7 separate regions of the Homo sapiens genome follow, and all the other regions are linked to region 7. Evidence: fine-mapped expression QTL. A gene starts in region 7. Each other region holds a variant in brackets. All regions are shown on one strand. Distances are between the middles of the regions. Region 1 overlaps FCGBP (Fc gamma binding protein). Region 2 overlaps FCGBP (Fc gamma binding protein). Region 3 holds the start of PSMC4 (proteasome 26S subunit, ATPase 4). Region 4 has its middle 4.9 kb from the start of FBL. Region 5 has its middle 24 kb from the start of LGALS14. Region 6 overlaps FCGBP (Fc gamma binding protein). Region 7 holds the start of FCGBP (Fc gamma binding protein).

Evidence for each region.
Region 1: its variant is fine-mapped to the expression of FCGBP in whole blood (INTERVAL, PIP above 0.99).
Region 2: its variant is fine-mapped to the expression of FCGBP in whole blood (INTERVAL, PIP above 0.99).
Region 3: its variant is fine-mapped to the expression of FCGBP in fibroblasts (GTEx, PIP above 0.99).
Region 4: its variant is fine-mapped to the expression of FCGBP in whole blood (TOPMed, PIP above 0.99).
Region 5: its variant is fine-mapped to the expression of FCGBP in whole blood (INTERVAL, PIP above 0.99).
Region 6: its variant is fine-mapped to the expression of FCGBP in whole blood (TOPMed, PIP above 0.99).

The regions. Positions count from the first base shown.
Region 1 is chr19:39,890,774-39,894,839 of GRCh38, forward strand. It overlaps FCGBP (Fc gamma binding protein), which reads right to left. Exons shown (of 36, transcript NM_003890.3): 20 at 3,149-3,722; 21 at 2,138-2,754; 22 at 870-1,413. Among named protein-coding and RNA genes, the nearest start is that of FCGBP, 42 kb to the right of the region's middle. The variant G/T (reference allele first, on the strand shown) is at 2,053.
Region 2 is chr19:39,883,761-39,887,826 of GRCh38, forward strand. It overlaps FCGBP (Fc gamma binding protein), which reads right to left. Exons shown (of 36, transcript NM_003890.3): 24 at 2,231-2,825; 25 at 1,913-2,112. Among named protein-coding and RNA genes, the nearest start is that of FBL, 39 kb to the left of the region's middle. RefSeq lists an enhancer at 1,957-2,458. The variant T/C (reference allele first, on the strand shown) is at 1,702.
Region 3 is chr19:39,968,659-39,972,724 of GRCh38, forward strand. PSMC4 (proteasome 26S subunit, ATPase 4) reads left to right here and starts at 2,507. Exons shown (of 11, transcript NM_006503.4): 1 at 2,507-2,580; 2 at 3,488-3,586; 3 at 3,711-3,897. The coding sequence starts at 2,545. LOC124904720 (a long non-coding RNA gene) reads right to left here and starts at 2,313. Exons shown (of 3, transcript XR_007067260.1): 1 at 2,222-2,313; 2 at 1,696-1,778. RefSeq lists enhancers at 1,827-1,876, 2,377-2,766, 2,791-3,470. The variant T/G (reference allele first, on the strand shown) is at 2,077.
Region 4 is chr19:39,849,235-39,853,300 of GRCh38, forward strand. No RefSeq gene overlaps it. Among named protein-coding and RNA genes, the nearest start is that of FBL, 4.9 kb to the left of the region's middle. The variant C/T (reference allele first, on the strand shown) is at 2,066.
Region 5 is chr19:39,678,782-39,682,847 of GRCh38, forward strand. It overlaps the pseudogene LGALS17A. Among named protein-coding and RNA genes, the nearest start is that of LGALS14, 24 kb to the right of the region's middle. The variant G/A (reference allele first, on the strand shown) is at 1,554.
Region 6 is chr19:39,864,713-39,868,778 of GRCh38, forward strand. FCGBP (Fc gamma binding protein) reads right to left here. Exons shown (of 36, transcript NM_003890.3): 34 at 2,025-2,408. Among named protein-coding and RNA genes, the nearest start is that of FBL, 20 kb to the left of the region's middle. RefSeq lists an enhancer at 1,717-2,916. The variant C/A (reference allele first, on the strand shown) is at 1,666.
Region 7 is chr19:39,932,386-39,936,451 of GRCh38, forward strand. It overlaps FCGBP (Fc gamma binding protein), which reads right to left and starts at 2,249. Exons shown (of 36, transcript NM_003890.3): 1 at 2,179-2,249. The coding sequence starts at 2,233.

The sequences.
Region 1 (4,066 bases), 42 kb before region 7:
TAGGACTATCTAACTATGCATCTGTGTGGATCTGCCCAAGGCTATGCCAGGATCCTGTTTCTTTCTGAGTGTATCTGACCAGTCAGTATAAAATTTAAGCAGATATCACTGAAGGTATGCGACTAATTCCATGTGACTAGGTGTATTTCAGTGTGTGCAACAGACCTGGGCCCTCTGACCAGCTGAAACTCACTAGGTCTTCCTAACAAGGGGTACTTTGCTATGTGACAGAGGCAGGGTCAGCCATCCCAATCTACATGCCTTGGATACCTGAAAGCATGGATCACCAATCCCTAAGAGTGTCCTGGACCCCAGGTTTCTTTTCTTTCTTTTTTTTTTTCTGTTGTTTGTTGTTTGTTTGTTTTTTGTTTTGGAGATGGAATCTCTGTCACCCAGGCTGAAGGGCAGTGGCACGATCTCGGCTCACTGCAACCTCTGCCTCCTGGGTTCAAGTGATTCTCCTGCCTCAGCCTCCTGAGTAGCTGAGATTACAGGTGCCCGCCACCACGCCCGGATAATTTTTGTAGTTTTAGTAGAGGTGGGGTTTCACCATGTTGGCCGGGCTAGTCTCGACCTCCTGACCTCAGGTGATCCGCCCGCCTCGGCCTCCCAAATTGCTGGGATTACAGGCGTGAGCCACCGCGCCCACACTCTGACTAGGTGTTTCTAACTGACTCTCTCTCACTGCAGTACCTGACTTGGGGCATTTCAGTGTGTCAGTGCCAAGGTGTTTCCTGACAGTAGATACCGAGCTCGGGAAGGAAAGTGGCCCCTGAGCCCCATGGAGGAGGAAGGGGCTGCTGTCCTACAGTCCTGGGAAGGGCAGGGAGAGACCCAACCATGTGGACCATGCATGGAGCAGTACTCACGACAGAAGTCCGGCCGCCTCCACTCGCGGAGCTGGGCCCCAGCGGCCTGACAGGCTGCCACGTAGGTGGCCACTGCAGGACAGAGGCCTCCAGGATGGCCCTGAACTTGGCAGGCGTCCAGCAAGCAGCCCTGGAAGTACTGCGCGGGCGGCACAAGGCCGTGGCAGGGCGCCAGCGGGCCGTCGGTGGCGGAGATCACGCCGCAGGCGTCCGGGCCGCCGAAGGACTCTTGCTGCTCTGGGGTGCACGGCGACGGGCATGGCTTGGACACACATTCCCCGCAGCCCTGGGCGCCGCCCACCTGCCATCCGGCGGGCTTCCCGCCCACCGCCTTCAGGTCGTCTGCGGGGTCCTGGTTGTAGTTCCCGCATAAGCCACAGAGAGAGCCCGCGTACGCCGCCGGCACGCGCAGGCGCACGAAGCTGTCCCCATCGAAAGCCAGCGAGAGCCCTGAGGTTGTGGTCACCACCACGTCGGCGCCGCTCAGGTGTGCGTGCAGGAGCGAGTCCAGCTGGAAGGGCAGAGTGACGAACACGCCGTCCACCTGTGGGCAGTGGGGGAGCGGTGAACGGAGCAAACACGGGTTTGAATCCTGGCCCCACTACCTACTAGCTGTGGGACCCAGAGCATGTCACCTCCCGCTGAAAATAATAATGAGCATCTATAGGCCGGGCCTGGTGGCAAAGCCTGCAATCCCAGGACTTTGGAAGGCCGAGATGGGAGGATCGCTTGACGCCAGAAGTTCAGATCAGCCTGGGCAACATAGTGAGACCCCCATCTCTACAAAAAAATGAAAAATTAGCCAGCGTGGTGGCGTGTGCCTTTAGTCACAGATACTTGGGAGGTGGAGGCCAAGGCGGGAGGATCGATTCAGCCCACGAGTTCCAGGCTGCAGTGAGCCCTAATCCTGTCACTGCGCTCCAGCCTGGGCAACAGAGTCAGGCTAAGAAAAGAAAGAAAGAAAGAAAGAAAAGCAAGAAAGAAAAAAAGAAAAGAAAAACAAAGAGCCTCTACTGGCTCATGTCACTGACTCCTTATCCTTCTCGAAAACAGGTACTTTTCCTAGACCAGTTTACAGAGGAATACACTAGGCTCACAGAGGAAGAAGCTGCTGTGCCAAGCCATCAGGCTCCTAGGCGTACACTCTGACCCTTCCATCATGCCCCAGCTAAGCTGTGAAAGG[G/T]GCCCAGGGGAATGGTGAAGCCCTTACCATCTCAGGCAACCCCAGAGCTGGCACTTGCTCCTGTCTGGCCCACAGCCCTCCTCACCTGTAGCTTCCGGGGCCAGCGGGCACTCAGTGTCAGGCTGTGGTTGTAGATTTGCAGGGTGACACTGCGGGTGTAGCTGACAGCCTGGCTGCCCCGGTGCTCATTGGCTACAGTGACAGTGAAGTTCTCAGCCCCCAAGGGTGGTCCGTGGCAGGGTGCACTCAGCAGGTACTCGCAGGTGCCTTGGAAATCGAATCGGTGCCCATCCAGAGTGACGTAATGGGGGTCACCCCACGCCTGGCACTCAGCTGTGCTGACGGGCTGGCAGCCGTGCTGGCCGGATGGCAGGAGGCCACACACTTCACCCAGCCCACAGCTGGCAGGTGTGCAGACCAGCGAGCCACCCCCAGGCCCGCAGCGACACCACTGGGAGCAGGTGCCATCAGCCCAAAACTCACTGCCCGCCTCGTGGTAGGTGCCATTGGCCCAGCAGCCGCAGCCGTTGTTGAGGGGAACACAGCGGTCAGCACTTAACACGAAACCCGCGTCGCACTGGCAGCCCTCCACACAGGGGCCCTCACATACGGCTGGCGTCGTAAGGGGTGCAGGGGACGGACAGCTGGCCGGGCAGGGTGGGCCACAGACCTCATAGTGGCTGTTTTCTGGGCAGGTGATCTCTGTGGGCAGATGAAGGAGCAGGAAGGAGAGAAACAGAAAGAAGGGTGTTAGGGGTGGGGTCCCAGAACAGGGTGGGAGGAGACAGAGAGAGACACTAGGGAGCAGACAGAGAAAGGGGGAGACAGAAAACAAGACACAGAGAGAGGACACAGAGAAAGAAATGGGAGAGGGCGAGACACCAGGAGACCCAAGCAGAAACTGAGGGAGCTAGAGAATGAGAAACAGACAGATAGAGACAAGCAAAGCGAGGCCCAGAGACGAGCACCAAGAAACAGAGAGACAAACAGAGAAAAAAGAAAACAAAGAGACCCAGAAGGACCAGAGTGAAACCAAACCAGCCCCGAAGAGATGGGACCCCGCCCCCAGCCCCGCCTCTGCTCCCCCAACACTCACCACAGCCAACCTGTGCCCGCCAGTCTTCGATGACAACCCCAGCAGCCTGGCAGGCGGCCACATAGGAAGCCAGAGCCTTGCAAAGAATGTCACGGTCCCCACCACCCATGCAGACGTCCAGAACACAGCCCTTGAAGAAGCTCTCAGGTGGCACATGAGCATGGCAGGTGGTGAAAGGGCCCCCTGTGCCGGGGGCCAGGGGTCCGCAGAAGCCAGGGCCCTCGTACTGCTCCAACCGGTCCTCAGGGCACGTTGGGCAGGACCCCCGACATTCGTCCCAACACAGTGGGTCCCAGCCTGGGGCTCGCCAGCTGCCGCCCCAGATGGGTATGGAGGGAGCCAGTGTGCCATTAGGGAAGACCTGGTCATTGTTGGGGTTGCGGTCCATGTTACCGCAGAGCCCGCACACTGCGCCATGATAGCTGCTGGGCAGCGTCACGTCTACCCGCCAGTTCCAGTCATAGCTGACTTGCAGTCCAAAGTCAGCCACCAGCAGTGCCTTCGATGCACCCTGGGTCACTGAAATCCGCCCGTCGGCCACAGAGACAGGCAAGGCTGTGAGCACACCGTTCACCTGGGGGAAGGAGGGAAGGCAAACGGGTCACTGGAGGTTTTACGGCCCCAGCTCTGGCCCTCTGCCTCCCTCTCTCTCATCCCACCGGGGGCTGGGAGAGGCCAGGGCCTTCCCCCGAGAGTTGGATTGTCATCTGACACACTGTGGACAGTTGTTCTAGCCCAGGTCTTGGGGAACGAAACCTCACTTTACTTTTTCTAGATCTTCTCCCTTCATCTCTATCTCCCTCCCCTGTCTCTGTCTCTCTCTCTGTGTCTCTCTCCCTCTGTCTTCACCTAAGGCTATGCCTCTGGGTCTTCTCTCTCTCTGTCTCTGTCTCTCTCTCTCTCTTTCTGTCTCTCTGT
Region 2 (4,066 bases), 49 kb before region 7:
TGTGACTCTGGGCAGTTACTTCACCTCTTTATGGCTCAGTTTCATGATCTGCAGATTGCAGATGATAGTAGCGCCTGCCTTTGGAAATATAACTGAGTTATATTCAGATAATAACCAAGTTATATTCAGATAATAACCAAGTTATATTCAGACATGTAAAATTTAGATAAAATGAAAAGGGTAGGCCGGGCGCGGTGGCACATGCTTGTAATCCCAGCACTTTGGGAAGCCGAGGCGGGTGGATCACGAGGTCAGAAGATTGAGACCATCCTGGCTAACACGGTGAAACCCCGTCTCTACTAAAAATACAAAAAATTAGTCGGGCGTGGTGGCGGGCGCCTATAGTCCCAGCTACTCGGGAGGCTGAGGCAGGAGAATGGTGTGAACTCGGGAGGCGGAGCTTGCAGTGAGGCAAAACTGCGCCACTGCACTCCAGCCTGAGTGACAGAGCGAGACCCCATCTCAAGGAAAAACAAAAACAAAAACAGAAAAGGGTTTCCTTTAAAACATTCAGATAGGAGAGATACGTGGGGTAGACATCAAACAAGATCGGGAGAATATGGCTTATTTTTGAAGCTAAGTGATGGGTAAGTACATGGACAGTCATTCCACTATTCTCTTAATTTTTGCATGTTTGAACGTTTTCAGAATAAAAAGTTTTTAGATATGTAATGCATATATAAAAATATGCACACATAGCACTTAAAACGGTACCAGATACATAGTAAGCACTATCTACACATTTTCTGTTATTATTAATATTATTTATGTGAGGAGAACAACAGAGAGAGGGTTCCACCCCTAGGAGAGCTCACAGTCCCCAAGGGAGATGGACATTAGACAAACACATGCTCCAGTCAAAGAAAAAGGACCTACGGGGACAGAGTGGGAGAGGGAAGTAGAGGGTGTTAGCAGCTGGTATAACACATGGAAATCTTGTCTTTGTGGTCAGAAAGGCTCCCTTCGTCCAGACCTGGAAGGCAAAGCCACAACTTGACCTGGGGAGTCAGGGGAGGGTTTAAAGCTTCAGAGCCCGTGGTCATATTTAGAAAGATCTTTACCACTGCCACGTGGAGGGTGGACCAGAGGGAGCAGAGGTAGGAGCTGGGAGGGACCCAGGTAGGAGAGGACCAGCTGGACCAAGGGAGGGCCATGGGGACGGGGAAAGGAGTGGGTACAAGAGACACTGAAGAGACTGAGTGGACTAGCTGTGGTGGCTCCCGCCTGTAATGCTCGCACTTTGGGAGGCCAAGGCAGGAGGATCACTTGAAGTCAGGAGTTCGAGAGCAGCCTGGCCAATATGGCAAAACTCCACCTCTACCAAAATACAAAAAAATTAACCGTGTGTGGTGGCACGTGCCTGTACTCCTAGCTACTCGGGAGGCCGAGACAAGAGAATTGCTTCAACCTGGGATGCTGAGGTTGCAGTGAGCTTGAACCCGAGAGGCGGAGGTTGCACTCCAGCCTGGGCAACAGAGCAAGACTATATCTTTAAAAAAAAAAAAAAAAGAGGCTCAGTGGGTCGGGCATGGTGGCTCATGCCATTAATCCCAGCACTTTGGGTGGCCAAGGCGGGACGATGGCTTGAGGCCTGGAGTTCACGACCAGCCTGAGCAACATAGTGAGACGCCCCCATCTCTATGTGTCCACAGGAAAATTAAAAATTCGCTGGGCTTGGTGGTGCGCACCTATAGTCCCAGG[T/C]ACTTGGGAGGTGAGGTGAAGGATTGCTTGAGCCAAGGAATTTGGGGCTGCAGTGAACTATGATGGTACCACTGCACTCCAGCCTGGGTGACAAGAGTGAGACCCTGACTCTAAAAGAAATAAATAAGAGGCTAAGTAGACAGGCCGTGGGGCTGATGAACAGTGGGAGGGGTGAGACCCCATATTCTGCCCCAGATGACTAGGTTCCTACCTCATAGTAGACACCATTGTGGTAGCAGCCACATTGCTGGATGGGCACGCAGGCTTGGCCGTTGTAGAGGAAGCCGGAGTCACACTGGCAGCCCTCAGCACACCCATCTGGGCACTGCAGAGGGGCACTGAGAGCCGAGCAGCCCAGGGAGCAGGTGTCCGCACAGAGCTCGTAGTGACTGTTCTGAGGGCATTCCATGGCTGCAAGGAGGGGGTGCCGATCAGAGCCCTGGGGAGGGAGGGGCTGCAAAGCCCAGGGTCTACCCCTTCTGTGCCTCAAGCTCTCCCCTCCCTGCCCCTCCGGCTCTCCCTCACTCACGACAGAAAGTTTCATTCCTCCAGGGCTCCACGTGGCCTCCAGCCGCCTGGCAAGCACTCACGTAGGCATGGATGTTGCTGCAGAGAATGCTCAGGTTCCCACCACCCAGGCAGAGATCAAAGATGCAATCTTTCAAGGGACCCTGGGGATCCACCAGCTTGTGGCAGGAGGACAGTGGCCCTGTGGGGCTGGAGAGGAGCCCACAGAACTCCTCCTTCTGATACTTCTTCTCCAGCTCGGGAGGACACTTGTCGCTGGGGATACAGCCCGCGCTCCCCGGCGGGCAGGTGGGCGGCGGCAGGCAGGGAGAGTCGGGCACCACCTCCTCCCAGGAGTTGCCGAACTCATTGGCGTTGCCTGCCTGCGAGCCATTGGGCTTCTGGAAGTCATCCTTGGGGTCGCCGTTGTAGTTCCCACACAGGCCACACATCAGCTGGTAGTAGTTTCCAGGGACGGTGACCCGCACATAGTACACAAGGTCGTAGGCCACACGCAGGCCGAAGTCGGTCTCAATCACAACATCTGAACCATGCTGGGAGGCACGGATCTGGCCGTTGGCCAGCACCACGGGCAGCTTCATGTCCACACCGTTCACCTGGGAGGGGAAGAGAGGCAGGCCACGCTTCAGAAAGTATACTTTGAGTGAGGGTGGGACCCTAGTTCAAGCCCATGCCTGATGCTGATCTTTGTGACCTCACCTCTTAGGCCCTCAGTTTCCTATTTATTAAATGGATATAATAACAGGGCCTGATAGTAGATTGAATGGTGGTCCCCAAAAGACATATTCACACAGAATCCCATAGCGTGAGCTTACTCGGAATAAAGTTCTTTGCAGATGTAATCAGGGTAATAATCTCAACATGAGATTATCCTGGATTAAATTGGGCCTTAAATCCAATGACTAGTATCCTTATAAGAGCCAGAAAGAAAAAGGCAAAGAGACACACAGAAAAGGCCACATGAAGATGAAGGCAGGGATTAGAATGGTGTTGTCACAAGCCCAGAGAACCTGGAGTCTGCAGAGCTGGAAAGGGAAAGGAAGATCCCCCAACCAGTGTCTTTGGAGGGGGTGCAGCCCTGCCCACACCTTGATGTTGAACTTCTGGCACCCAGGACTGTGGAACATACATTTCTAGTGTTTTAAGCCACCAAGCTCGTGGTAATTTGTTATGGCAGCCATGGGAAACGAATACAGGTCTCGATGAAGTAACAAGCCTCCAGCTATCCTTTGTTTACCGCTTGCTGCAGCCATTAATAAGCAATGATCGCCCCCGGAGCCACTTGCCCGAGTTCAAACAGTTTCCCCCTTACCCTCTTTGTGACCTTGGGCAAGTGAGTCACCTCTCCCTGTTTCTGTTTCCTCATCTATCAAGTGGGAATAAGGCGTTTGCCCCATGGAACTGTTGTCAGGATCACATAAATTAGTATCTGTAAAGTGCTGAGAAACGTGGCTGGCATAGCATGCATGCTTCAGGAGCATTTGCTGTTATTAGCAGCTATGAGTGGAAGTTTTTCTTCTGAAGAGTAAACAGAACCACAGGTTTTTGCTTTAAAGCATCAGCGAGTGGAAAGTTAGGCTAAATTCTTGGGGAAATGAACTTAAACCTATGAGCTGAGGACCAGTGGTTTCAGTTAAAGATTTACTAGGCTCCAACAAAGCCTGGTAAATCCACCCCTGGACAGGGCACAGTGGCTCATGTCTATAATCCCAGCACTTTGAGAGGCCAAGGCGGGAAGATCACTTGAGCCCAGGAGTTCAAGGTCAGCCTAAGCAATATATCGAGATCCTGTCTCTACAAAATAAAAAAGAAAACAAATTAACTGGGCATGGTGGTG
Region 3 (4,066 bases), 36 kb after region 7:
TCATCTAACGCCTGAGAGCACAGAGAGAGGGACAATGATCGGCGGGATATAACCCAGCACTGGAGCCCGCAAGGCAATCCCCTTTGGGTCTCCTCCCATTTTATGGGAGCTCTGTTTTCACTCTATTAAACCTTGCAACTGTACACTCTTCTGGTCTGTGTTTGTTATGGCTTGAGCTGAGCTTTCGCTCACTGTCCACCGCTGCTGTCTGCTGCCATGGCAGCTGTGGCAGACCTGCCGCTGACTTCCACCCCTCCGGATCCGGGTGTCCACTGCACTTCTGATCCAGCGAGGCGGCACCCATTGCCGCTCCCAATTGGGCTAGAGGCTCACCATTGTTCTTGCGCGGGCTAAGTGCCCGGGGTTCCTCCTAATCGAGCTGAATAGAGCTATAACACTCACCGCATGGCCCAAGATTCCATTCCTTGGAATCCGTGAGGCCAAGAACCCCAGGTCAGAGAACAAGAGACTTACTGCCATCTTGGAAGCGGCCCACCACCATCTTGGGAGCTCTAAGAACAAGGACCCCCAGTAACAATAGCACTATAACACCCCTAAACTGGAAAATATCCAGTCTGAGGTATAGGGCATAGTCATAAAATGGAAACCATCCAGAATGAAAATGAAAGAACTATTTCTACACACGGTATGCATGAATCTCACAAAAACAACATTAACTAAAAGAAACCAAACACAGTACACAGAGTACTGGTCTAGAGAGAAGGAGAATTCAAAACAAACAAAAGTAACCCAGCTGTTACAAGTCAGGGCGAGTCCAGCCAGGCACAGTGGCTCATGTCTGTAATCCCAGCACTTTGGAAGGCTGAAGTGGGAGGATCATCTGAGTCCAGGAGTTCGTGACCAGCCTGGGCAACACAGCGAAACCCTATCTCTACAAAAAACATTTTAAAATTAGCAAGGCGTGGTGGCACACGCCTGTAGTTCCAGGTGCTTGGGAAGCTGAGGTATAGGATTGCTTGAGTCTGGGAGGTTGAACCTGGAGTGAGTAGTGATCTCACCACTGCACTCCAGCCTGGGCAACAGAGCAAGAATCTCTTTCAAAAGATATATTTTTAAAGGCTACATGGGGTGGGTCATGCCTGTAATCCCAGTGCTTTCAGAGGCTGAGGAGAGAGGATAGCTTGAGGCCAGCAGTTGGAGACTCTAGTGAGCTATGATCGTGCCACTGCACTCCAGCCTGGGCGACAGAGACTCTAGCTCTTAAAAAAAAAAGAAAAAAACAGATGAATGATAACCTTTAGAAGGGATCGGGAGGCCGGATGTGGTGGCTCACGCCTATAATCCCAGCACTTTGGGAGGCCAAGGCAGGCAGATCACTTGAGGTCAGGAGTTTGTGACCGGCCTGGCCAACATGGTGAAACCCTGTCTCTACTAAAAATACAAATATTAGCCTGGGCAACAGAGTGAGACTCCGTCTCGGGGCGGGGAGTGGAGGGGGGAGAAGAAGGGATGGGGGAAAGGGGAGCACATGAGGCTTCTACTGTTTGGTTTTGCGATCTGGATTCAGGTTGTATGGGCATGTTCACTTTGTGTAATTTTGTCGAGCTGTAATGATTTGTGCTCTTCTCTTTATTTAACTTCAATAAAAGGTTTACTTAACAAAAATTGTAGCTGGTGTGAAGGGTAGCAGTGTTTCCCTGGGGCCAAGAGTACAGGCTTTGGGGACAGACAGACCTGGGTCCCAATCTATGCTTTGTCCCTTCGGCACATTGTTGACTGTGGCTGGTGGCTTCGTGGCTCTGAGCTTGTCTCCTTCTCTATAAATGAGGAAACATAATACTTGCGACGATGATGCCTGTAAAGCTTAAGCGCAGGACCTGGCATAGATCTGTAAGGCGGAAACCTGGGATACAGAACTAAGGTCTATGGATCTCCTGTGCTACCCAACTTCTGGGCACTCGCTGCCTCCTTTTCCCCAGCCCAGACGCGTGGGTTCTACTCGATTGGTTGCTCACTGCGGGCTCGGGGCTCCTCAATCCCGGGGTAAAGCCCAGTATGAAATGTCACCTTCAGGGGCAGCTCGGATCTTCCCACGCCCGCGCGGCGCACAATCTT[T/G]GGATCAGCGCCACGTGGAGACCTTACCCGCCCGTACGATCAATCCCTTCTGTGGAACCCAGCTCAAGGACCCTCCAGCCCAGACACTAGAAAGCGAAGAGCAGTTGGCCGCCAGACTGTCCGTGCCAGAGCTCTGCGAACTTACTCCGTTGAAAGAGCAACGGGGCTGCGCCACCTCCCGGAGAGAACCCCCAGCCCTCCACGGCAGGGCGAGATGGCGCCACCGCGTGATACTGCGCACGCCCACAGCTCCCGTCCCGCCCTCGCGCCTGCGGGTACGGACAGCGCATGAGCTTATGTTGAGGGCGGAGCCCAGACCAGCCCTTCGTCCTATCCTGCCCTTCCAGCACCTCTCAGCCGTAACTTAAACTACACTTCCCAGAAGCCTCCTCAGCCAGGGACTTCCGTTGTCGTCAGCGGAAGCGGTGACAGATCATCCCAGGCCACACAGAGGCCGGCTTGGTCACTATGGAGGAGATAGGCATCTTGGTGGAGAAGGCTCAGGTACAGTGGGGACTTGGGCTTTTTAGTCCGGGCCGGGCTCGCGGGGAGAGGGTGAAGCCAGACCTGAGTGGGGGGAGGAATGGCTTCCAGGACCCCGGCCCAGGTTGGGGTTATTTTAGAGGCCTCGGTGGAGAGCTTTGTGCCATTCGAAGGCCTGTCTGGGTGGCCGAGTGATGGTAGGAGGTAAGGCTCAGAAAGCGGGGCTGGGGGAGTGAGTGACGTTAGTGGGTCTTTGAGACGGATTGATTTCGAACCCTGGCCGGTAGTGCTTAGTGAGGTCGGTGGCCCGGCGTTGGGATTGGGTCAGGCGGTGAGTGATATATGGGATCCCGCCGTGCGGCCGAGTGATCCCCGGGTCTGGGCTGCGGGGCTGACTGATGTTCAGGGCTTTGCTGATGGGGGTAATGGGGCGGGTAGTTAAGTATTATCTGTGGCTTGCCTGAGTGATATTTAGGTCTAAGGTGAGTTAGGAGACTGTGACATAAGGGATCTTTGAGGGGAAACTGGGGAATGTTGGGACTCGTTGAAGGCGCAGTCACTTTAACAGCCTATCTAGGAGAGCCATGTGACATTAGGAACCTCTTGAAGGGGATTGGGTGGCATTTGGGTCTGATAAGGAGTTGATGTGACGTTTAGATCCTAGTTGGGGGTTGTGTGACACTGGGGACATGTTATGAGTGGTATATGATAACATAAGATCTGTTTGAGGGGCAAGTTGACATAAAGAGCTTGTTTAGGTGGCCAAAAGGTTTCCAGGATCTATTTAGAGGGTCTTAAGATATCAGGGGTCTGTTAGGGGCTAAGTGACATCAGGGTGAAGTGGGGAGGGGAACAAACATTAGTGAAGTTGGGAAGCTTTCATGAGAGGACTGTCTTCTTCCAATGTGAGTTATCCCCTTTCGTCTAGGATGAGATCCCAGCACTGTCCGTGTCCCGGCCCCAGACCGGCCTGTCCTTCCTGGGCCCTGAGCCTGAGGACCTGGAGGACCTGTACAGCCGCTACAAGGTACATTCGACCCCCAACCCAGACCTTGCACAGGACCTGACATCTCATACTCTTCCCCACTTTCCACCACTCTCTGGATCAGCAAGTCTGGAGCCATCCCCTTCTGTCCCCTCTCTGCTCGCAGAAGCTGCAGCAAGAGCTGGAGTTCCTGGAGGTGCAGGAGGAATACATCAAAGATGAGCAAAAGAACCTGAAAAAGGAATTTCTCCATGCCCAGGAGGAGGTGAAGCGAATCCAAAGCATCCCGCTGGTCATCGGACAATTTCTGGAGGCTGTGGATCAGAATACAGCCATCGTGGGCTCTACCACAGGTGTGCTAAGGACACCTCATTCATTCATCTGTCCACTTAACAACTATTTCCTACCATGTGCTAGGCAGCAGCAAACAAGGCAGGGCAGTGCAGTGCAATGTTCTTCAGAGTATTTTGACTGATCGAAAGGTAGAAATACATACATATATATATATATACACATATATAT
Region 4 (4,066 bases), 83 kb before region 7:
ATAACTGTGACAGCCCCAGAGGTCCCAGCCTGGTGGGGGAGAAGGACCCATTCTAGATGGCAACAGCCGCATAACCACAGCCCCTACAGAATCTCAGCTCCATGCATCTCACGCTCTGCCCGTCACCTCCTGTCTCTCCAGCTCACTCCTTCTAAAGATTGCACCAGTGAGCCTTCAGCCCTAACCATCCATTAAGCTGTCTGACTTGTTGCTATCCCTCCCCCAATCATGGCCACACCACTCTCAACTACCTAGCCAGATTCCCCACCATCATTATTACCACACCTTTGCATACCTCCAAACTATGAACTGAATTCAACCCTCCATTTATTCTGCACCTGCACCCCTGGCAGCTGAATGTGGATGGAGAAAAATACAGAATCACCCTGGCTGGTCTCGGTTTTGATTCATGACTACAAACCCAAATGCTTAATGCTGACCAGCAATCCTATCACTTGCCCCCAGTCTATTCATTCTCCATTTTTTCCCACCCTGTTGATGGTATAGATAACACATGGCCATGGGCTGAATTGTCTCCCCACACATTCACTTGTTGAAGTTCTCACCCCCATTGTTATGGTATTTGGAAGTGACAGCATTGGGAGGGATTAGGGTTGGAGGAGGTCATGAGTGTAAACCCTCATTATGGGATTAGTGACTTTATTATTATTATTATTATTTTTGAGACAGAGTTTTGCTCTTATTGCCCAGGCTGGAGTGCAATGACATGATCTCGTCTCACGGCAACCTCCACCTCCCAGGTTCAAGCGATTCTCCTGCCTCAGCCTCCAGAGTAGCTGGCATTACAGGCATGAGCCACCACGCCCGGCTAATTTTGTATTTTTAGTAGAGACGGGGTTTCTCCATGTTGGTCAGGCTGGTCTCGAACTCCTGACCTCAGGTGATCCACCCACCTTGGCCTCCCAAAGTGCTGGGATTACAGGTGTGAGCCACCGTGCCCGGCCAGGATTAGTGACTTTTTAAGAGGGAGAGAGGGAGAGATGCAACCCAGGAAGAGGGCCCTCACAGAGAATCACATCAATCAGCACCTTGATCTTGGACTTTCCAGCCTCCAGAGCTGTAAGAAATAAATCTCTGTTATTGGAACCATTCAGTCTATGGTATTTTAAGACAGCCCACACAAACAAACACACATGTATTAATTTTTAAAACTTTATTAAGGTATAATTTACATACCATAAAATTCACCCATTTTGGCTTGGCGCGGTGGCTCATGCCTGTAATCCCAACACTTTGGGAGGCCAAAGCAGGCGGATCACGAGGTCAGCAGTTTGAGACCATCCTGGCCAACATGGTGAAACCCCATCTCTACTGAAAATACAAAAATTATCTGGGTGTGATGGTGCATGTCTGTAGTCCCAGCTACTCAGAGGCTGAGGCAGAAGACTCGTTTGAACCCGGGAGGCAGAGGTTGCAGTGAGCCAAGATCATGTCACTGCACTCCAGCCTGGCGACAGAGTGAGACTCTGTCTCAAAAAAAAAAAAAAATTCACCCATTTTAATTCTATTGTTCGTTTAATTCTGGTAAATTTACAGTTGGGCACCCATCACCACAATCCAATTTCAGAAAACTGCCAACACCCCATTTCATACAAATGGAATCATACAATATGTAGCCTTTTTTTTTTTTTTTGACTTAGCATAATGTTCCACATTGTTGCAAATTTCTTTTTTATGGCTGAGTATTTCATTCTCTGGAATTTCACTGGTCTGTTCACCTGTTGATGGGCTTTTGAGTTGTTTCCAGTTTGGGTTATTATGAATAATGCTGCCATGAACATTCATGTACAAATATTTGTGCAGATTTACTCTAATTTTTCTTGGGACAAGCCCTAGGAGTAAAATGGCTGAGTCATATGCTGAGCATGTTTACCTTTTGAAGAAATGGGAACACTTTTTTCCAAAGTGATTGGGCCTATTTTATTTCTTTTAGTTTCTTTTTTTTATTTTTTTGAGACAGAGTCTTGCTCTGTCACCCAGGCTGGAGTGCAGCGGCGTGATCATAGCTCACTGCAGCCTTGATATCCAAGGCTCAAGCAATCCT[C/T]CTGCCTCAGCTTCCCGAGTAGCTAGGACTATAGGTGCCCGCCACCAGGCCTGGCTAATTTTTGTGTTCTTTCTAGAGACAGGTGTCTCACTATGTTGTCCAGCTGGTCTCAAACCCCTGAGCTTAAGCAATCTGTCTGCCTTGGCCTCCCAAAGTGCTGGAATTACAGACGTGCACCACTGCACCCAGCCCAGACCCATTTTTTTTTAAGAATTATTTTACACTTTCTCCTCTTTCTTCAAACCTTAAAACTTTCTCCTCCCTTCTTACTCTTTGTTGTTCGTCTTGCTTCCAAGGAGATAGAAGCAATGACAAGAGAACCCCAACATCCTTCTATCCCAATACCTATCAGCCGCCCCGCACCTGTTACCATGTATGCTGGCTTCCCATGTGTGACTGTGGATGACTCTCTGTTACCCATCGCAGTGCCTAGCTGTGTGCAGGTTTGTTATATAGGTAAATCTGCACATGTACCCCTTATATAGGTAAATTGTGTGTCACGGGTTTGATATACAGACTATTTTGTCACCCAGGCAATAGGCATAGTACCTGATAGATCGGTTTTCTTTTCTTTTCTTTTTTCTTTTTTTGAGACGGAGTCTTACTCTGTTGCCCAGGCTGGAATGCAGCGGCGTGATCTCGGCTCACTGCAACCTCTGCCTCCTGGGTTCAAGTGATTCTCCTACCTCAGCCTCCCGAGTAGCTAGGACCACAGGCACATGCCACCACGCCTGCCTAATTTTTAAAATTTTTTTGTAGCAATGGAGACTCACTATGTTGCCCAGGCTGGTCTCTAACTCCTGGCCTCAGCCTCCCAAAGTGCCACATTATAGGCATGAGCCACCACTCCCAGCCATAACGTTCTGTATTTTGACAGAGGTTTGGGTTCATTTCAAAACAACAAATTTATTCTTTAGATGTGTACATTTCACTGTGTGTGAATTTTACCCCCAAAAAGGAACTGTACACAAACTTGAGCTCCAGTTAATGCTACGTGTGCTGAAGTATTTAGAAGGAAGCATAATGATGTCTGCGACTTATTTTGAAGTGTGTGTGTGTATATATATATACAAATATATGAACACATATATAAATATATATACATGTATAAATATACATATACATATATATATATTTTTTTTTTTTTTGAGATGAAGTTTCGCTTTTGTTGCCCAGGCAGGAGTGCAATGCTGAGATCTCAGCTCACTGCAACCTCTGCCTCCCAGGTTCAAGCAATCCTCCTGCCTCAGCCTCCTGAGTAGCTGGGATTACAGGCGCCCGCCACCACACCCAGCTAACGTTTGTATTTTTAGTAGAGATGGTGTTTCACCATGTTGGCCAGGCTGGTCTCGAAAACCTGGCCTCAGGTGATCCGCCTGCCTCGGCCTCCCAACGTGCTGTGATTACAGGCGTGAGTCACCACACCTGGCCTGAAAAGTGTATTTTAAAAGAGGGATCAAAGGCTGCATGAAGGGATGGATCAACGGATGGATACATAATAAAACCAGTATAGCAAAATGTTAATTACAGACTCTACATGGTGGGTAGATGGGTTGTCTCCATTTGTTTTGTGCTGCCATAATAGAATTCCTGAGACCGGGTGATTTATAAGGAAGAGAAATTTATTTCTCACAGTTCTGGAGACGGGGAAGCCTAAGACGAAGGCACCAGCATCTGGTGTTGGGTGAGGCCCTTCTTGCTGTGTCCTTACATGGCGGCAGGCAGAAGGGCAAGCAGGGACGAACACTGTGTCACCTCATGGCAGAAGATCAGAAGAGAGCAAATCCAATCCCAAGGATTACAGCAGTGTTAATCCACTCATAAGGATGCGGCCTGAGCCCTCAGGACTTAAACACCTCCTGTTAGGCCCCACCTCCCAAGACGGTTGCACTGGGGGTTAAGTTTCCAACACATGAATTTTGAGGGACACTTTCAGACCATACCAGGAGTGCTGACTGTATATTTCTTCAAACTTTCTGCATGTTTGAAAAGGGAGGAGAG
Region 5 (4,066 bases), 250 kb before region 7:
CGACCAGGAAAAAGAAGAGGGAAATTCATATGCTCTCTGCCCTCAGTTCAGGAATGGGGGATGAACCATCCCATTTCTGGAAATGTTGAGACCCAGACTTAGCAAAGGCTAATTTGTTGATTTAAAGAGTGCTCATAGATGACCATGCCCTTCTACCATCCTCCTTTCTGACTTAGAATGGGAAAAGTCATGTCATAGAGGAGGAGCTGTGGGCTCAAATAGTGGACAAGGCAGTCAGTACTTTGCAGAGTGTCAATCTTGGTCAGAGATGGATGCAAGGCAAACCCTTTGACCAGGGCACACAATGACATGGCTTCATGAGAAGCATGGAGGCTGAAGTGCACAACTTCCCACCCTCACTCCATCATCCTCATCTGTGCCTTCCCTGGCGATTCCCTGCCCCTTGGTGTGACCCTCCGTGTCGTTTCTGCTGCAGCACAGTCACAGGCCTGAAAACTGAAACTGAGTCTATTTCTGCCACCCCTACTCACGCTGCTGAGAAATCTTCCTGGCAGGGGTTCAGAGAAAGAAATAAAGCCAGAGGGCAGGGCCAAGAGGGACTATTTAAGTGCTGCAAATCAGAGACTCACACAGAAGACCAGATACTATTCTGAAGAACTACACAGAGGGAGACAACAATGTCATCACTAAAAGTAAGTCAAAAGACACAGCCTTTAATAAACTCAATTCACATAAACCAAGAAAGAATCAGGGGTGATTTCACAAGACGAAAGTATGAGAGTTTCTCTTGTGAACACTTTACTGAGAGTTGTGGGTGTGTGAAAGAGAAACCGTGCGGCTATGATATCTGAGATGCTGGTGGAGTGTGGGGTGTGGACTCTGAACCAGTGTAACCGTCTGTGAGTGCATGGTGGTGTCTGATGAGAGTAACCTCTGCTGAGATGATGTGACTTTAGGTGGGAGGTGAACAGCCCACCAGGGTGGGCGGGTGTGTGCCTGAGTGTAAGGGTGTAACTGCGTTTTGTCTTCTTGACTGTGATGTGAGTGTGTGTGTGAGCACAGCTGGACCAGTGTGTGAGCATCTTTATATGCACAGTGAGCAGGTGTGTGAGACTCAGTGAGTGGCATGGCTCTGTGAGACTATGGGTGAGTGTGTGCTGGGATGTGACTGGGTGTTGAACTGGGAGCATGCAAGGGGCCTTCTGTGCATGTAAAGTTTCCTCCCAACACAGCAGCGCCTCTGATGAAGCAGCTGGGCACTTCCCATGTGTCAGTGTGTGTCCCATGTGTGAACAGTGTGGGTGGCAGAACTGGTGCGCCTGTTGTGAGCCATGAGTTATGGAGGAGTCATCTCTGAGCAGAATGCGTGAATCCTCAGGTGCCTCCTCCCAAGCAGAGTGGGGAAAAGGAACACAGACTATGGGGCCGATGGTTCCTCAGGTGGGGTCTGTCCAGAAAGGCCATCTGCTCCTGCCTCCAGCCTCAGGTCTCTCTGTCTCCCAGCCTGTCCATCCCATTGTGGGAGAAGAGGGTGAGCAGATCCTGGCTCACTAGGGAAGGCCTTTGGGGGATGTGGGTTCGGAGACTGAGTC[G/A]CCCAAAATAGAGAAGGAATCAGTTTATTCTTAGTTCATACAGAGCTTACAGTGCATATTAATCAATAACTTGCCAGGGTTTGTGGCTCATGCCTGTGATCCCAGTGGTTTGGGAGGCCAAGGTGGAAGGATCGCTTAAGGTGAGGAGTTTCAGACCAGCCTGGGCAACGTAGTGAGACCCTGTCTGTACCCAGAATTTAAAGATTATCCAAGCATGTTGGTGTGCACCTTCATTCACAACTACTCAGGAGGTTTTGGCAGGCGGATCACTTGAGTCCAGGAGTTTGAGGCCACAGTGAGCTGTGACCATGCCACTGCAATCCAGGCTGGGCAACAGAGTAAGATCCTGTATCAAAAAGACCCCAAACCCCAACACCAAACAGAGAAATGAAAATCAAACAATATTTAGATTACCTCCAATGACTTCCCTGGCCCACACTCTTCATGTGTGCAGGTACTGGGGCTGTGCTGCCAGCAAGGTGTCCCCTTCTGGAAAGGACGTCCATGGCCCTTGATGATTGTGATGCACACGGGGGTTTCCAGTTCTTTTAGCATTTCTCTCTCTCTTTCAACAAGTGTTGTTTCTCACTGGAGTGAATCTCTCTACTCTTACATCCTCACATCTTGTTTTCACAGCTTCAGTGTTGAAAATAATCACAGGTCGGTGTTCCAGAAGCAACCTCCCTGTTCTAATGGGTAACCCCCAACAGGCTTCATGCATGGCAGAGATTAGGGCAAAACTTTCACATATATTAATTCATATATTACTGGAAAAACCCTACAAAGCAGAAATTTCTGCTTATCCTCCTTGTCCTGGGGAAACTGAGGCAGGGAGCGTTCAAGTAATGGATCTAAGATTGCACTGCTAGTAAGAGGCAGAATGAGGACTGGAACCAAGGCAGCATGGATCCTGAACCATTGCTCTCATGTATGGGTCACTAATTTCTTCAGGAATATGCCGCCCTGACCGCTACGGTGGGAGGGAGGAGGCTCACAGTTTGCCCTTTGACCTCTAGCCTCCTGCACCATAGGAATCTGTTACGGGGGGGAGGCCACACCTGGTCCTGCCCCTCCCACCCACTTTCAATCCCCTGGCAGGTACCACACACACGGCCTGTGTCCTTGTCTACTGGTTCTTGTGTGATAATCACAGGGACACCGATCATCCCTTTCGTGTGAGTACTCCATGGTCCATGGCAGGGGGAGGAGACGAAAGAACATTTGCTAAAGGGCTGACCTCCTGTGTGAGTGATGTGAAAATGTCTAGTTGGCAGGATGGCAGCACCATGCAGGTGCAGGTCCTGGAGACCCTGCAACACCTGGCATGAAACCTGCAGTGGCCGCACTGTGAGCTAGTCATGGGGCCTAGGGGAGGAGGACACTCAGGGCATTGGGACTGTGGCTCTTTATCAAGAGGCATAGAATGTTCAGGAAATTGACAACTCATAGGCCTAGGTCAGTGACTGTGGCTGAGTTTACATCTTGGGATGAGGGAGCTCTTAAGGGCAGGAGGGGCTGAAGCAGCCCCACAGGGACAAGACTGGCAGTATCACCAGGAAGGCCTGTGTCTGCTCTGGGGAAAGGGGGGAAGGGATTTGTGTGTGTCCAGTGTGTGCCCCACAAGGGAGAGACCTGCCCAACACACCGTGTGCTTTACCCTCAGCATGGACCCACAGCTGCAGGTGGATTTCCATACCGAGATGAAGGAAGACTCAGACATCGCCTTCCATTTCCGAGTGTACTTTGGTCATTGGGTGGTCATGAACAGCCGCGTGAATGGGGCTTGGCAGTATGAGGTGACATGCCACAATATGCCCTTTCAGGATGGTAAACCATTTAACCTGTGCATCTCCGTGCTGGCCGATGAGTACCAGGTGAGCCCCCCAGGAGCTCCCAGCACCCACCCTCCATGGGCTCCCAGAACAGGAGGCAGCTCTTCCTGAGCTGACCCCACCAGTTCCTCGGAGCCGATCTCCCATAACTACTCCTGCCCCAGGCTTTTCCTCACAGAGCACTCTCTGCTTGCACTGCCATCCTCAGTTCTTCTTCCAGATCTGACCCAGGGTCAAGGTGGGCTCACCTGCCATTTTCCCCAAGGTGGAGAATCTTGTCTGTCTTCACCCATAGTTCTCATTCCCATGTATGCTGTTACTTACATAGTCATTCAGCCAAATGGATAAAACATGCATATGAATAAGGTTATTTTATCAGTCCAAAATGTAGTCTTTCTCTCAGTACTGAACCCCAATCCTACCCCCAGAACAGCAGTATTACTAGCTTCTCTACACAAATTCCAGAGCTAATGTATGCTTATGGAAGCATACAGATGTGTGGTTTCATTTCTTTTTAAACCAATGCTGTTTTAAGTTTCTCTACACATTACACTTTAGAAACTGGGGTGGATTTGTTGTCAAACGCTACATGTTGGAGCAATCATCCATCCATGGTGCCGCCTCAGTTTTTCAACATCATACAATATTCCTGTAGCAGGGTTACCCAAAATTATTGAACTT
Region 6 (4,066 bases), 68 kb before region 7:
TTGTGAGTTTTTCCTTTACATAACTGTTGTCTATGTTAGTTGGTGAATTAACCCTTCTAAAGTTAGATTCCCTAGAGAAACTTCCTTAAAAGACTTGTCTTTTTTTTTTTTTTTTTTGTAAATCCTTCTTTTGTTTGTTTGTTTTTTGTTGTTGTTGTTGTTGTTTTGTTTTTTGGTTTTGGTTTTAGTTTTTTTTTTGAGATAGAGTCTTGCTCTGTCGCCCAGGCTGGAGTGCAATAGCGCGATCTCAGTTCACTGCAACCTCCGCCTCCCGGGTCCAAGTGATTCTCCTGCCTTAGCTGGGACTACAGGCATGTGCCACCATGCTCGGCTAATTTTTGTATTTTTAGTAGTGACAGGGTTTTGCCGTGTTGGCCAGGCTGGTCTCTAACTCCTGACTTCAAGTGATCTGCCCGCCTCGGCCTCCCAAAGCGCTGGGATTACAGGCATGAGCCACCATGCCCAGCCCTCTAAATGCTTTTGTATCTGAGTTTTCCTCTGCCAGATGATTGGAGAGATAGGTAGATAGATCTGAAAAGACAGATGGGTGGGTGGGTGGGTGGGTGGATGGATGGAGGGATGGATGGGTGGATGGGTGGATTGGTGGGTGGATGGATGGATGGACAGATGGGTGGGTGGATGGAAGAAAGAAGGAAGGGAAAAAGACTAGAAGGAAGGAAATAGGAAAAAGAGAAGGGGGTAGAATAGATGCTGGAAGGAAGGAGGGGAAAAGGGAGGATGGGTGTAGTGAAGGACAGATGAAGACTAGTGGATGGAAAGTCTCAGTAGGGTGCAAGCTTTCCAAGTATAACGACTGAGTCCGAGTCATCTCTGTTACCCAGCACATGGCCTGGCACAAAAGGAGCAGGGCTGAGTTTATTCACAAAACCAGCCTTTTACTGAGTACCCTCTAGGTGCCATGCCCTGATCTGGGTACTGGGAACAAACTGGTGACCAAGATGGACAGGATCCCTGCCTACCTGCGGCTTATAGTCCAGTGATGAACAAAGATGCTGAGCATCTTCTGGGAGTTTCCTTCTAGGAGTCTGGAATTTTGGTAGGTGGATACCAAAACCCCAGGCACTGAGACTCTATGAATTTCCCTGGCAGATGACATTTCATGTTTCATCACAACTTTGTTGCTGGAGGAATTAAGCACATCCTGTGTGACTCTACCGAGAAAGGACTCTCGGAAGCTTGCACATGATTTCCCCTGGACTTTGTGCGATGCACCTTTTCCCTGTGTCAATTTCACTTCGTATCTTTTCCCTATGATACATCTTAGCCCTAAGTACAACTATATGCTGAGTCCTGTGAGTCCTAGTGAATCACTGAACCAGGTTATGGGAAACCCTGACACATTATGTGACCCCCCACCCCCAGCCTTGACCAATCACGGAACTTCCTCCCTAAAGTCACAGTGATTGGCTCCAGGGGTGGGCATGTGACCCAAACTGGCTCAGTGAGATATAATCCTGGGTCTTTTATTGAACCATTTTCTGTTAAGGTAGATAAGCTGGTGGGGTGTAGGCCTGGGCAGCTGGGCGGGGGTCGTCTTTACACCTGTAAGTGGAAAGCCTGTTTGAGAACAAAGCTGATTTGGCAAATAGCAAGTCTCAAAGACGGAAGTACAAATTTCTGATAATATTGCCAGGGCACCTAGAT[C/A]CAGCCATTCCTGAGGCTCTATCCTGGGATTTTCTAGCTACATGGACTAATAAATTCAATTTTGCTTAAGGCAGTTTGAATTTGGTTTTAAGTCACTTGCAACCCATAGAGTCTCGATTCATACTAATGTCAAAACTATTAAGTTGCTTGAGTATGTTTTTGCTCCTCTAGAACTCAGCCAGAACAGAGGGACCAAGTTTGAAATATTGAGATAAATACAAATCCAGAGACTAAACCGCAGAGACCTGGATAAAGAAAACAGATCGCAAGACAGAAAGGAAGCCAGGAATGTGGGGACACTGTAATCAGAAGAGCAAAAGCCCAGGGAGACATTCCCTACCCCCTACTCACAAACTTACCCACACACCCTTGTTTGGAGTCAACGTCACCATCCCATCCTGGAAGAAGATGTGGACCTGGCCCACAGCCTCCGTTTTGCCATGGCAGATCTGGACTTCGGCAACTACACGGTACCAGGGGATGGTATTCTGTAGTCCTGGGCAGCGGGAAGAGAGCTCATAGACACCAGGAGAGGTGGTGGCACCACGGGCCCCATCAAAGGTGGTGAGGTTGGCACCCACAGACAGGACACAGAGACCACGGGTGGCCCAGCAGTTCCGGGCTTCAGCCTTGACCTCACATACACGGCCTGGTGGGCAGCCAGCTGCCTGGCATGTCAGGCCAGAGCTTGAGGAACAGGAACAGCGCTCGCTGCAGTCTGAGGTCAGCAGGGAGGAGTTTACCTGTGCACAGAAAGGGGCCAGGTTATGGTGGTGGGATGGATCGCAAAAATGGCCACACTGCTTGAACCCTCTGTATCCATGCAGAGTGACTTTACAGACTCCCATTAAGAAATAGAGTTTATTTCCCCCTCCCTATGAATCTGGGTTGGCCGTAAGACTATATTTAGGTCAATGAAACACAGAAGAAGCAATGTTGTAACAGGTTTAAGCCTAGACCTCAAGAGACCTCACAGCTTCTCTTTCCTTCTCTCTCTCTCACATACACAGAATCCTGCCCAGCCACCATGAGAACAAGCCTGGGCTAGCTCCCTAGAAGATGAGTGACCCCATGGAACATAGATAACTCTTCCAGCTCAGGCCACCCTAGACCAGGCAGCCTTCAGCTGACCCACCAGCTGACTACAGATATTATACATGAGTAAGCCCAGAGGATAGCAGAAGAACCACCCAGCCAAGTCCAGCCTAAACTGCAGTCACAAAATTGCAAACTAAATGAATAATTGTTTTAAGCCACAACGTTTTGGAGTGATCTGTAACCCAGCAAAAGCTAACTGATACAGGTAAGAAATGAAGAAATGTAATTAACAAAATAAATGCCATCTCTACAATGATGATTTCCACATCTCTAGGCCAGACCTCTCCCATGAAGGCCAGACTCACAAATCCAAGACTTCGGGCATAGGCAGAGGGGTCAGGGCAGAGATGGGGAAGCATAGGGAGCTGAGGGGTTCAGAGGAGGCACCTAACCCAGCCTAGGGGATCAAGGATGGCTTCCAGTAGGCAGTGAGACCTCAAGGAAAGAGCAAAATTTGGCTCCATTTGCAAGCAATGCAAGTTAGTGCTGCATGTTAATGGCTAGCCTCGGGCTGACTTCTCTATGTCACAATTTCTTCATCTGTAAAATGGGGAAAATAGTCATAGTATCTATTGCATAGGATTGTTGTGATTATTAAATGAATTAACATCCAGAACATGGCCGGGAGAGGTGGCTCATCCCTGTAATCCCAGCACTTTAGGAGGCCAAGGCAGGAGGATTGCTTGAGCCCAGGAGTTTGAGACCAGCCTGGACAACATAGCGAGATCCCATTTCTACATAAAAATTAAATAGTCAGCCAGGGATGGCAGTGTGAGCCTGTGGTCCCAGCTACTCAGGAAGCTGAGACAGAAAGATCGCTTGAGCCCAGGAGTTTGAGGCTGTAGTAAGCCGTGATCATGCCACCGCACTCCTGCCTGAAAGACAGAGTGCAATCCTATCTCAATAAATAAATAAATAAATAATAACACCCATAACAAACATGGTGCATAGTAAGAGCTCAAAAAAATTATTAACAAGAATAAATCAATTCTTCAATTTAATTCATATTATTAAACAATTATTAGCTGGGCTACCTATTTGCACTGTTGTAAACTGCTATTTCTTTTTTTTTCTTTTTGACATGGAGTCTCGGTCTGTTGCTCATGCTACAGTGCTGTGGCACAATCTCGGCTCGCTGCAACTTCCACTTCCCGGGTTCACGGGATTCTCCTTCCTCAGCCTCCCGAGTAGCTAGGACTACAGGTGTCCACCACCACACCCAGCTAATTTTTGTATTTTTAGTAGAGACGGGGTTTCACCATATTGGCCAGGCTGGTCTCGAACTCCTGACCTTTTGATCCGC
Region 7 (4,066 bases):
AGGATGACTATTGTTGACGATAATTTATGGTATATTTTAAAATAACTGAGAGTGGAATTGGAATGTTCCTAACACAAAGAAATGACAAATGCTTGAAGTGAGGGATGCCCTAGTTACCCTGATTTTATCATTACACACTGTATGCCTGTATCAAAATATCACAGGTACCCCATAAATGCAAACCCATAAAAATTAAAAATTTTAAAAATATATAAACTAGTAAAAAAAAAAAAAGTGGATTGTTGGTACTAGCTTTCACCTGTTATAATGAAAGAATGTGAGCTTTTTTAAATTGTAAGACCTTCCTGTTTTTCTTTTTTTTTTTCTTCTGAGATGGAGTCTCGCTCTGTCACCCAGGCTGGAGTGCAGTGGCACGATCTCGGCTCACCACAACCTCTGCCTCTCAGGTTCGAGTGATTCTACCACCTCAGCCTCCCGAGTACTGGGACTACAGGTGTGCGCCACCAGGCACAGTTAACTTTTGTATTTTTTCTTTTTTTTCTTTTGAAATGGAGTCTCACTCTGTTACCCAGGCTGGAGTGCAGTGGCGCGATCCTGGGTCACTGCAACCTCTGCCTCCCGGTTTCCACGCCCAGCTAATTTCTGTATTTTTAGTAGAGATGGGGTTTCACCCTGTTGGCCAGGCTGGTCTCAAATTCCTGACCTCAGGTGATCCACCTGCCTCGGTCTCCCAAAGTGCTGGGATTACAGGCGTAAGCCACCACGCCTGGCCGTTCTTTCTGTTTTTAAAGAGAATGTGGCTATCTGAATTTTCATGTGAAATCTCCAACCCACAATTGTTTTAAGCACTTTGGGGCTCAAGGTGGATGTACTCTGCTGCCAGTGTATGATTTCCATCTTTTTACAAACTGGAGTGCAGTGGCTTAAACACAACACACTGCAGCCTCAACCTCCTGGGCTCAAGGGATCCTCCTGTCTCAGCTTCTGGTATAGCTGGGACCACAGGCACGCACTGTGTGCCTGGCTCATTTTTTAATTTTTTTCTAGAGGCAGGGTCTCACTTTGTTGCCCAAGCTGGTCTTGAACTCCTGGGCTCAAGTGATCCTCCTGCATCAGCCTCCCGAAGTGCTGGGATTACAGACGTGACCAACTGTACCCAGCTGGTTTTTGTCTTAATAGGACTTGTGGGGGCCAGGCGCGGTGGCTCTTGCCTGTAATCCCAGCACTTTGGGAAGCCAACGCGGGTGGATCACTTGAGGTCGGGAGTTCATGAGCAGACTGACCAACGTGGTGAAATTCCATCTCTACTAAAAATGCAAAATTAGCCGGACATGGTGGCATGGGGCGCCTGTAATCCCAGCTACTAGGGAGGCTGAGGCAGGAGAATCGCTTGAACCCAGGAGGTGGAGGTTGCAATTAGCTGAGATCACACCATTGCACTCCAGTCTAGGCAACAAGAGTGAAACTCCATCTCAAATAATAATAATAATAATAATAATAATAATAATAATAATGGGACTTGGGGGTTTGTGAAAAGGGGATAAAGAGAAGAAGGGGATTATGGAAGGGTGAATGAATTGTCTCCTAGAAATAGATGGCAGTGGGGGCTTCTGACCACCCCCAACTAGGAAGAGCGTCCCTGGGGCTGAGGAGAGAGAGGTCTAAGGAATCTTGAAGAGAGTGTGGGGGCTATGGAATGACCACCTTCCATATAAAGGGGGCTTTGAAGGATATCCCAGGGGGCCAGGGGATCAGGAACAATGGACATTTCAAAAGTAACCTAGATGGATGCTGACTGGTGACGAGAGGGTCCTCATATCCCATCCTCCCCCCAGTACTTTGGCTTTATCCAAAATTTTAGTTCTGGACACATCCCTGGGAGAAGTGGGGACAACACCCTCCAAGAATGACTTTCGTGAAATTTTCCATCAACTTAGCAGAATGAGGCTCAGAGTCAAAACCTTAGTTGAGTTGCAGAAAACCAAGAAAGTTCTTGCACACTTGAGTTTGGGGACTAAGGTTTTTGCCTGTGCTCCCATCCAGAAAAGGGTGAGAATTGGTGAATTCTACCACATCCCCCTGCAGAGCCTAAGGGCCTCTCTCCTGTCTCAGCTAGCCTGGGGTGACATGTGGAGGAGGCACACATGGAAGGCGTGGACCCACGCAGAGTTCCCCAGATTGGAACAAGGACATGGAGAGGGTCTTGGTCTGACTTACCCCACAGGAGGGTTGCTCCAGCCCAGAGTATCCACCAGCTCCATAGGGCACCCATGGCTGCAGTAGGAAAAGAGAAAGGATCATAGAAGGCTGATCCACCGCCTCTGCTGGAGACTGTCCTGGGCAGAAGGGCCCACTCTCATGACAAGGGCCACCTGGGACCATGAAGGCTGAGGTGGGGAAAGAAGTCGGGCAGATTGGGCCAGGGGGTATGGATCCAAGGACCAGTGTGTGTGTATAGGGGAGGCTGGCTGTCCAGCGGGTCTGGAGGTGGGTTGGGGAGGGCAGAAGCCAGGGACGGGGTGGAGAGTTGGCTGTCTTGTGGGTCTAGGGGTAGGATGAGGAGGCCTACAGTCAGGGGCAAGAGTAGGGGACCTGCTGTCCCACTTCCAAAGGGGACCCCAGCCCTTCTCACCTGCAGGTCCCTGGAGCTGCAGGGCCAGCCCTGTGGCAGGGCTATATAGTGGAGTTTCTGGGCCACACCCTGGGCCACGTGCCAGGCAGATGATGCCAACTTCCTGGAGGAGGCTGCCATCCTCATGGCCAGATGAAATGGGAAACTGTGAAGGCCTGGGAAGGAGGGACAGTGATTCTGGATGCCTGGGTTCCAAGAAGGGAGTGAGGACAGCTGGTGGCCATTCCCTGGAAGCCTTCTGGAGAGTTTGGTCCTGGAAGGGTGGGGTCCCTGAGGGAGACAGCTGGGGAGCAGGCAGATGAGCACCTGGGTCCCTGGGTGGAGGTGGGGTAGGGTGGGGGTGTGGGCAGTGAGGGTGGGAGGTGGCATGTGGTCATATTTGCTGGCTTAGTGGCTAGGTTCCTTCCTTTGGCTCCTGCCAGGAACAACAGTGAGGGACCCATATCCGGGTCCTGGTTCCTTCTCAGTCCCCACAGGCTGGGGAGTCCCTAGCCACCCACATCCTGCTTCCAGACACCACTAGGGGCAGGTGTCTGGGATGGGCAGGAGTCTGAGGCTATGGAGTGGGACACAAGACCTCCACCGCAGCCCAGTGGGGCGTCTGCGGTTTCTCATCTGCAAAATGGGAACACCAAAACCAGCCTCTCTGGGCATCTTTACGTCCCAGAGATGTAAAAAAATTCTCAAGGACTGTAGAGCTGGGGGGCAGCCTCCTCTGGTGTGGGCGCAGGCCAGGCTGCAGGTGGGCACTGGGACTGAGGCGGTGTGTGAAGAAGGGACAATGGCCTCTGTTTCCTGGTTCCACACAGACACCCAGATTCTACTTCTGATCCCAGACACCTGCTCCTCAGTGGTGCTGGAAACAGGATATAGGTGGCCAGGGACTCCCCAGCCTGTGAGGACTGAGGAAGAGCCAGGACCTGTTGGTTTTGGAGTTTTTTTGTGTGTAGGGAGGGTTTGCTCTTAGCAGGGGCTAGCTGAACAGGTTTAGGGGACTCTGTGCCTCTCCATCACCCCAGAATTTGCCTGAGATGGGAGGTGGAGGTCTAGGTTGCACACAAGGAGCAGAAGAATGAGCTGAAAGTTGGGCTTTCTCAGCTGGAGTCAGCTCCTCTGAGGGGCTGGCCTGACCCATGCCCTGCCTGCCTTCTCCCTGACTCAGGATCTCATTGTTTGCTGGGGGAGTCTCCCCTGGGACCAGCAGCTGCAAAGCCTGGGTGCTCTCTTGGACCAACACCCTAGCAGCTGCTGCCCCTGGGGCTCCTCCTCTCTTATCACAGCAGCCTGGGCCTCTGGGAGGCCAGAGCGGGTGGGGGGCTTCTCTCTCCCTGGAGCTCCAACCAATCCCCACGCCCACCCAAGAAACGTTCCTGGAGGGAAAGATAAAGGCTAAGAGTTGACTGGGACATAAAGTCAACCAGGAGAATGAGGTGAGTAAATAGGAGACTGGCTAAAAGCCAGAGATAACAAGAA